2 linked regions of the Homo sapiens genome follow. The protein of the gene in region 1 interacts with the protein of each later gene in a pairwise test. Each region holds a gene or a part of one and is shown in the gene's direction. Other genes may lie near its edges. The genes, in order: MPHOSPH9 and WNK1.

Region 1 (4,504 bases):
AAAGATAGGATAACATCAAATTTACCCTTTGAAAATTGCCAGGCGTGGTGGCTCATGCCTGTAATCCCAGCACTTTGGGTGGCCGAGGCAGGAGGATGACCTGAGGTCAGGAATTCGAGACCAGCCTGGCCAATATGGCAAAACCCCGTCTCTACTAAAAATACAAAAAATTAGCCGGATGTGGTGGCGGGCACCGGTATTCCCGGCTACTCGGGAGGCTGAAGCAGAAGAATCACTTGAACCCGGGAGGCAGAGGTTAAAGTGAGCCGAGATCGCGCCACTGCCCTCCAGCCTGGGTGACAGAGAGAGACCTTGTCCCCCCTACCCCCCTCCCCCACAAAAATAAAAAAAGTAAAAAAAAATTGGTAGGTATACTTAGGAAGCTCCAATGAGATGTAACGCCTCCTGGCAGATCTGTTATTCCAAGGGCAGATCCATTTCCTGGGTTGTGGAGGCCTAAGTGATAGTGCCAGGGAAGTCCCTTTACTGTGAGCCAGAACTCCTGGAGGTAAATCGAGTAGCTGGAAAGACCTTAAAGGTTAACTATGCTGAAGAATGTGGCCTGCACAGTGCGCATGAAATGGGCTGGGGTCCCACGGGGAGGAGAGCGAGTTCCCTTTGGTCCTTCAAAAGTAGGGCTGGGTGGCTTGCGCCTGTGATCCCAGCACTTTGGGAGGCCGAGGAAGGAGGATCGCTTGAGGCCAGGAGTTCGAGATCAGCTTGGGCAACACAGTGAGACCCCCCCACCCCACGTCTATTAAAAAAAAAACGAGTATCTCCGCAAAAGCCTAGCAAGGGCAGTGCTGACCTCTACTACGTGCCAGGCCTGAAACAGCACCTGATGCGTGCTCACAGCTCCATTCCGCTCAGTTTTGTACATGAGGATCCTTCCGTTTCGCCTTGGGCCTCCGTGGAACCGTTATCTCCAGGACGGTAGTCTCTCCTCTCCCCTGCCCTGAGTGCCTGAACAGCCCCAGGGCCGACCCACAGCACCTAGCGTAAACCAGGTCCCGAGAAAACTGAGCTCGGGTGTCACGGCCGGCCCCACCCCACCGCCAGCGCGGCCTCAGGTAAACTGGCTGCGCCACTCGGGGTCGCAAGTCGGGAAAAACCCAGGCGTCCCGGCTCGCAGTCCTCTCTCCGGAGCCTTTGACAGTCGTCGGCAGCCGTAGGGTTACCTGGCTTCTCCGCAGATGCTTACCTGGTCTCAGGACCCGACTCGTGCCCTCAACGTTCTAGGGATATCCAAATCACCTCAGCGGAGGATTCGCAATCGCGATCCCTGATCTGCGCACGCGCCGTACTCCGATCGCGGTTTCTCTTATCTACCAGAGGCTCATGTTTACTCACTGCGCATGCGAGAAACTGAAGCTTCTTTCCCTCGTGGCAGCGGCTGGCTCCCAGAGAGCCAATCAGAGAAGAGAGTTTCACAGCAATCCCGCCCCCTTGTCACTCCCCCGGGGTTGGATGTCTCTCTTTGGTTGGAGCTGCGCGAGGGGGAACGGCGAGGTGGACGCGCGCGCCATGCGAGGCTGTCTCCGCCTCCTTCCGGGCAGCCAATCACTGGAGAGACGCCGGGCGCGCGCGCGCTCCCTCGGGTAACGGTCGCGAGAGGCCGCTTGCATGACCCTGACATCGGCAGCGGGAGCGGCGGCCAGGTAAGCGGCCACCAGCCTGCAGGGAGCTGTAGGCCGCTGGGGACAGGAGACGAGACTTAGGAGACACTGTCTTAGCGGCCCCTTGAGTGTGGTGATGGGCTGGGGTGTGGGGTGACGGCTGCCGATTGGCCTGACCCCCTCGGAGCCCTTCGGCGTGTGGGAGCTCTGCCCGGCCGCGGTGCGCCTTTTCTAGACTCGGCGCCCTTGAGTGACACTCGCGCGGCCCAATCGCAGATCGCTCTTCCTGAGGGGCGGGGGGTTTGTGGGGTTTTTTTAATTTTTCCCCCCATTTTTTGCCAAGGTGCCCCGGTTTCCTTTTGGAATCGCGGTTGTAGTTGCAGGAGCGGTGGCTTTTCTCCGTCCTCCCTGCTTTCCGTAGCTTAGGCGACTGCATAGATTCTCCCTCTCCTTCCCACTTTGACCCGATAGCCGCCACCAGCCATTGCGGGCTGACTGTGAGCTCAGAATGTCGGGATCTGGCCTCATCCCCATCTGAAATCTCTTCCTCTCCCCCAAGCCTCCCGTCAAGGCGGAGCGCCCAGTTAACTTTCATGTTTCATAACCATCAATCGTTCCTTTTCCCCAGCTCCCTTTTTTTGCTAGGGGGTAGGGACACCAAAAGCGTCATATCTTGTTGCTGGGAAATATAAAAGCTCTGCTCTTATATTCATTCTGTATCAAGTTAAAAAAATTTTTTTTTGCATTGTATTTGTGGGTGTTTAAGGATTTTTCCCTCTTACTTCCCTGCCCTCCCCCCAGCACCTCCACCCCAAATGGAGAAGCATCTTTGAATTTCTAGTGGTTTTCCATCTGGATCTGCATCCGGATCCGGATTACCTTAGCAGGGGAAATAATAGATGGGGTTGCAGGTTCATCTCCCTGGAGAGCTTGTGTTTTCCTGGTGTAATAGCATGGTGATTGGAATCCAGGTATTTCTGTTGCCAGTTGGAAGGGGCAGTCCTTGACTGTTTCAATGCCCCATTTGTCGTGGGTGATGGGCTGAGCCACTGGGGAAAAGTCCATTTAGTTAGGTCCGGTTACCCTTTGCATTCACTCCTGTCCCTGAAGGAAATGGTCCCTGTTTTTGTGTAATGCTTTATAAAAGCAGGCCCTAGAAAGTGGGAATCTAGCAGAAGCGGAATACTAGATAATATTCCTGTTGCACTCTCTAAGCTTTTCAGTTTGTAAGCAGCTGAAGTTTTCTTTCTTTCTCCTTTTTCCTCTTGCTCCCTTGCTCTTTTATAAGTGCATGAATTCCCCAGGAAGGAGGCATCTTGTTTGACCTGTTACAGCCAATTTGCCATGGTATATATCCAGCTTCACTGAAATTTTAGTTGGCCTGGCAAATAATTTTTTTATTTTTATTTTTATTTTTTAAGAGATGGGGTCTTGGTCTGTTGCCCAAGCTGGAGTGCAGTGGCAGGATCATAGCTCACTGCAGTCTTGAACTCCTGGGCTGAAGTGATCCTCCCACCTCAGCCTCCAGAGTAGCTGGGACATGCTCCCAGTAGCTGCAGGCAGGCTCCAGTGTGCCCAGTGGTTTATTTTCTAAGAATAGCTGCACAGAGACAAAAGACCATATATATAGTTCAAAATGTACTTCCAGACAATGGGGAAGCTATGGTTGTTAACAGTTTAATTGGCTCTTTTTAATACAAATTAAATATTAAGTAGTTCAGTTCTTCTTGTCTCTGTATAAGTCAACAAACATATATACTTGGTAGAATTTATTAAACAAATGAACAAGGCATGCAAGTATTCCAATTGTTACATAATAGAATTATATCTAGAACTTTCATTGTAAAGCCTGGCAAAATGGTTTGCGCTATAATCCCAGCTGCTCGGGAGGCTGAGCACTTGAGGCCAGGAGTTGTAGACCAGCCTGGGCAACATAGCAAGATGCTGTCTCTAAAAAAAAGAACCTTGATTATTAAACATATAAAAATCTGAAATATTACCTGAAAAAGGTGATGCTACTTTTGCAAATAATCCTTAATGTAGATTTTTAATTGAGATACATAATTCACATACCATAAAATTCAGTCTTTTACAAGTGTACAATTCAGTGGTTTTTAGTTCACAAGGTTGTGCAGCCATCACCACTATCTAATTCCAGAATTTTTTATCACCCCAAAAAGAAACTCCATACCAGCTGCACTCACTCACATTCTCTCCTTCCCCAGCTCCTGGCAGCCATTTGTCTATGAATTTGCCCATTCAAGATATTTCATATCAATGAAATCATATAGTCTGTGGTCTTTTGTGACTGGCTTTTTTTACTTAGCATAGTATCTTCAGTGTTCATGTATGTTGTAGCATGTGTCTTTTTATGGCTGAATCCTATCCTGTTCTATGAATATGCTTCATTCGTTTATCCATTTATCCATTGATGGACATTTGGGTGGTTTCTACATTTTGATTATTATGAATACTGTTGCTATCCTTAATGGAGATCTGTATGAAAGCAGTTAAGGTTTCCAAAGTTATGTAAAAACAGTTGCTAGCTTTGGTGGCTTTTTATAGTAGTATTTTTTTCCCCCATTCATTTTCAGACTCTCTTGGAAGTTTAGGATATTTCACAGTTCTGAATGTTAGCCACTGAAAATGCCAGTAGATGATGAAGCCTCTGAAGATGACACGGATTCATTTTTCTCAAACAGCCCAAGAACCTTTATTTTCCAATAAGAGAATATAACAATTTCTGTACACTATGGAAGAGTTTGACTTGGTGAAAACCTTACACAAAACTTCATCTTCTGTAGGATCTGATGAAAATTCTCTTCATTCTCTTGGACTGAACTTAAATACTGATAGGTAAGAATGGGATTTAAAAAAAATGTACCAAA
Region 2 (3,811 bases), about 120 Mb from region 1:
TGCCCGGCCCTGGACTATATTTTAATTGGGATAGATAGAGAGTTTCTAATCCTTTGGTGAAATTATGGTAGTGTTAACACAATTAGTTGAAAAGTAAAAGAAGGTTAAAATATGTTAAAAAGCAGTTGCAAACTTCTTAGCAGTTCCATTCTCTGGAAAGGTTCACAGATATCCAAATGTAGCACATTAGGGCCAGTTCATGCAGCCCATTAGTAGAGATGTGATTGTAAGAGAAATCAGCTAATTTCTGATCTGATCCCAATCAGATCTTTTTTGTTTTTGTTTTTGTTTTTTTGAGGCAGAGTCGGCAGTGGCTCAACCTCCAACTCCCAGGTTCAAGCAATTCTCATGCCCCAGCCTCCCAAGTAGCTGGGATTACAAGCATGTAATCCCAAACCAAATGTATAAGAACACCTGGCTAATTTTTGTATTTTTGTATTTTTAGTTGCACTATGTTGGCCAGACTGGTCTGAAACTTCTGGCCTCAGGTGATCCGCCCGCCTCAGCCTCCCAAAGTGCGGATTACAGGCATGAGCCACTATGCCCAGCTATGATCCTAATCAAATTCTAATCCTAATTTTGACATACTTTTTGAGTGGACTTGAATTCAACTGGGAACCGGGGAGCAGAGAGTCAATTTTAGGACAACCGACCTATTGAAAGCAACCTACCAAAAATAATTTTAAACACCCATTGCTCTGTAGTGACCTCCATCATTTTTGAACACCTCTTTTGTATTTGCTCTGATGCACGTTTATAGGAAAGTCTAAGCAGAGACTGCCTAGCAAACCTTTTTGTATAATGATTCAACACATTTTCTAATAGGGTAAAAAAAAAAGCAATCATGGAATTGCAGAATGGAATCTGGGTATCCACTAGGTACTCTGGTCTTCTTACGCTGCTCAGACATGTGGCCCATCTAGGTTTTCTAAAGCTAAAAAGCTCTGGAATAGTACATATGGCCCTATTACCTATGGATTCTTTTCTTTTTTTTTTTTTTTTTTTGAGTGCAGTGGCATGATGTCGGCTCACTGCAGCCTCTGCCTCTGGGTTCAAGCAATTCTCCTTCCTCAGCCTCCTGAGTAGCTGGGATTATAGGCACCCTCCACCACGCCTGGCTAATTTTTATATTTTTAGTAGAGACAGGGTTTCATCATGTTGGCCAGGCTGGTCTCGAACTCCTGACCTCAGGTGATCCGCCCACCTTGGCCTCCCAAAGTGCTGGGATATTATAGGCGTGAGCCACAACACCCAGCCTATCTATTGAGTCTTAGTGTCATTCCTCACTTCTCCCGTTAGTGAGGACTTTGTTCTTCTCATCAGTTTGTAGCTTTTGACCCATCATTCATCACTCAGTGGAACAAACCAAATGTATAAGAACAGTGCCTGATGAGTGCATGGGAAGAGCTGGACATGTTTCCTCATGCCACTTTATCTTTTGGCAGGTAACCTGTCTGGTCAGAGTGCAGCTTCAGTCTTGCACCCCCAGCAGACCCTCCACCCTCCTGGCAACATCCCAGAGTCCGGGCAGAATCAGCTGTTACAGCCCCTTAAGCCATCTCCCTCCAGTGACAACCTCTATTCAGCCTTCACCAGTGATGGTGCCATTTCAGTACCAAGCCTTTCTGCTCCAGGTCAAGGTAATAAAGCAACCATCATCGTCCAAAAACAATAAAATGGAGATGTTGCCATACCTGGGACAAAAGCCTGTTAAGGCGGGTTGGGAGACTAGCTGACCAGAACACAGCCTGTGTGTTGTACACTGAAGAATCTGGGTGAAAAGGGAAGTGGAGTGATAATGAGAATCGGTGGGCTCACTGCTCCCATTAGGTGAAATTACTTTTTTTCAAGGAATTACAGTGAAAAGTTACATCTGTGTGGCCTATATGACTTGCTCATTTGGGATTTGGAACTTAGGCTTTAATATTAGGCTGAGATTTCCTGGATGAAATTCTAAGGTGTTTTAGCAGTTTCTGAAGCTAATACATTTTCTTAGCCATTGTAGAATTTTGTTACTTTTAAGTATGGGAGTGGCATACTAAAATGAATAACCTTACAATTCAGTTTTTTATCCATAATCTACTTTCCAAATATAGCTCTGTTTATTAGTGATTGCTGAAAAAATTCCCACAGAGGAAAGAGCTTTTAGTCATATTAGAACAAGAATTGAAAAGACTTGGGCATCTGGGTGAGAAGAATGAAAAAAATATAGGTACTGGCTTATGTGCCTTTGCCACAGTTTCACAGAAATTAGAGATCAGTCTCTTCACAGGAAGAATGCACTTGATTGGTAAGGAGGGCAAACTAGCTAGCATTATTCGAACTAAGAAAAGCTTCCGCATTTTGCAGATGGGTAGAATTAAGACCTAATATTTCATCTCTTACATATCTGACCTTCCCCCCAGAAGCTTGTTCTTCTGTGTGCCATCTTAGTGCATTTCACCACTCCAGCCTCAAGTTTCTAACATCTTGTAGTTGTGTTCTGTCTCTTCTCCTCTCTCTGTTCTACCCTGTTTTTCCCCTCTCACAGGCTGTGCGAAGTTTAACTGTGCATCTGAACAGGTGACATTCAAACCTGGTGGCAGGAGGACCCGATTTCTGAGTACGCCCTGCTTGGCTCTTTGTGTGTAACACCTTTACTCCTTCCTTGTCCTTGTGTTTCTGCTGCTTGGATCTGATGTTTCACGCAGTCCATTTTCATTTGTCTCTTTTTGTATATCATCTACTCAGTGGCTTGGCTGAATTACTGTTACCCTCAGAAGTTTGGGCCCCCACATTAATTATGATAAAAAATGTCAAAATAACAAGTTATCTACAAATTTCAATGTAACTTTCTGGTAGAAGTGCTTCTTCATGGATCTGTGACAGAGAGTGGATATGGTATCTAGGCAATAGATTGCTGGGTCATTTAGAATAATGAAGACTGAACTCCACAGTCGTAGTCAGTGCTGTCTGTCTGCCCTAGCATTAGAAATGAGAGAAATCAGCCAGACACGGTGGCGTACACCTGTAATCCCAGCACTTTGGGAGGCCGAGGCGGGAAGATTGCTTGAGGCCAGGAGCTCGAGACCAACCCTGGGCAACATGGTGATACCCCATCTCTAAAAAAAAAAAAAAAGTTAGCCTGGCATGGTGGTGTGCACCTATAGTCCCAGCTGCCCAGGAGGCTGAGGCGGGAGGATTACCACCTTAAGACCAGGAGGTTGAGACTGCAGTGAGCCATGATTGCACCACTGCACCCCAGCCTGAGCGACAGAGTGAGACTCTATCTCAAAAAAAAGAAACGAAATGAAGAAAGCATTTTGACCAATGATGCTCTTAGATCCTGGCAGCAGGTAAAAATTATGTACCATTTTTTTCCATTCTTTGTCAGAGTAGATTGAAATCTTATTTTTCTTCTCTATTAAGCCTAAGCAGCTACCAGTTGAAAAGATGCTAGGATCTCTTCATTGGATCATTCCACCACTACTGTCCTCTAACCCCATAAAATCAAAAGCGGTTTTTAGTTTGGTTATTCTGATAAAGCACTTAGTCTAATAAAGATCAAAGCCCAGCATCTGCAAGTGAAAATTCTCCTTCTAACATGATTTCTGGGATTTTGCAGCTTTCTACTTAAAAACAAGGCACAATAGCAAGTCACCCCATCTTCCCCATATGTGAAATGGAGATGATGCCAGTGTCCTAGGGCCATCGTACAAATCAAGCTAAGATCATGTACAGAGAAACAGGTAGCGCTTGAAAAGCACTCATGGTTTCTCTCTGATGAGTCAGTGCCTACCTGGCACAGAACAGGTAGTCAATAACTGTTCGT

The links.
Region 2: the proteins of MPHOSPH9 (region 1) and WNK1 interact in a two-hybrid assay, tested with the Homo sapiens proteins (one large-scale study listed by IntAct).

Annotation. Positions count from the first base shown.
Region 1 is NC_000012.12:123,230,229-123,234,732, reverse strand, and holds the start of MPHOSPH9 (M-phase phosphoprotein 9), read left to right. Parts: upstream 1-1,591; 5' UTR 1,592-1,658; exon of another isoform or gene 1,659-1,819; intron 1,820-4,210; 5' UTR 4,211-4,368; coding exon 4,369-4,472; intron 4,473-4,504. UniProt on the Homo sapiens protein: Negatively regulates cilia formation by recruiting the CP110-CEP97 complex (a negative regulator of ciliogenesis) at the distal end of the mother centriole in ciliary cells.
Region 2 is NC_000012.12:899,031-902,841, forward strand, and holds part of WNK1 (serine/threonine-protein kinase WNK1), read left to right. Parts: intron 1-1,445; coding exon 1,446-1,640; intron 1,641-3,811. UniProt on the Homo sapiens protein: Serine/threonine-protein kinase component of the WNK1-SPAK/OSR1 kinase cascade, which acts as a key regulator of blood pressure and regulatory volume increase by promoting ion influx.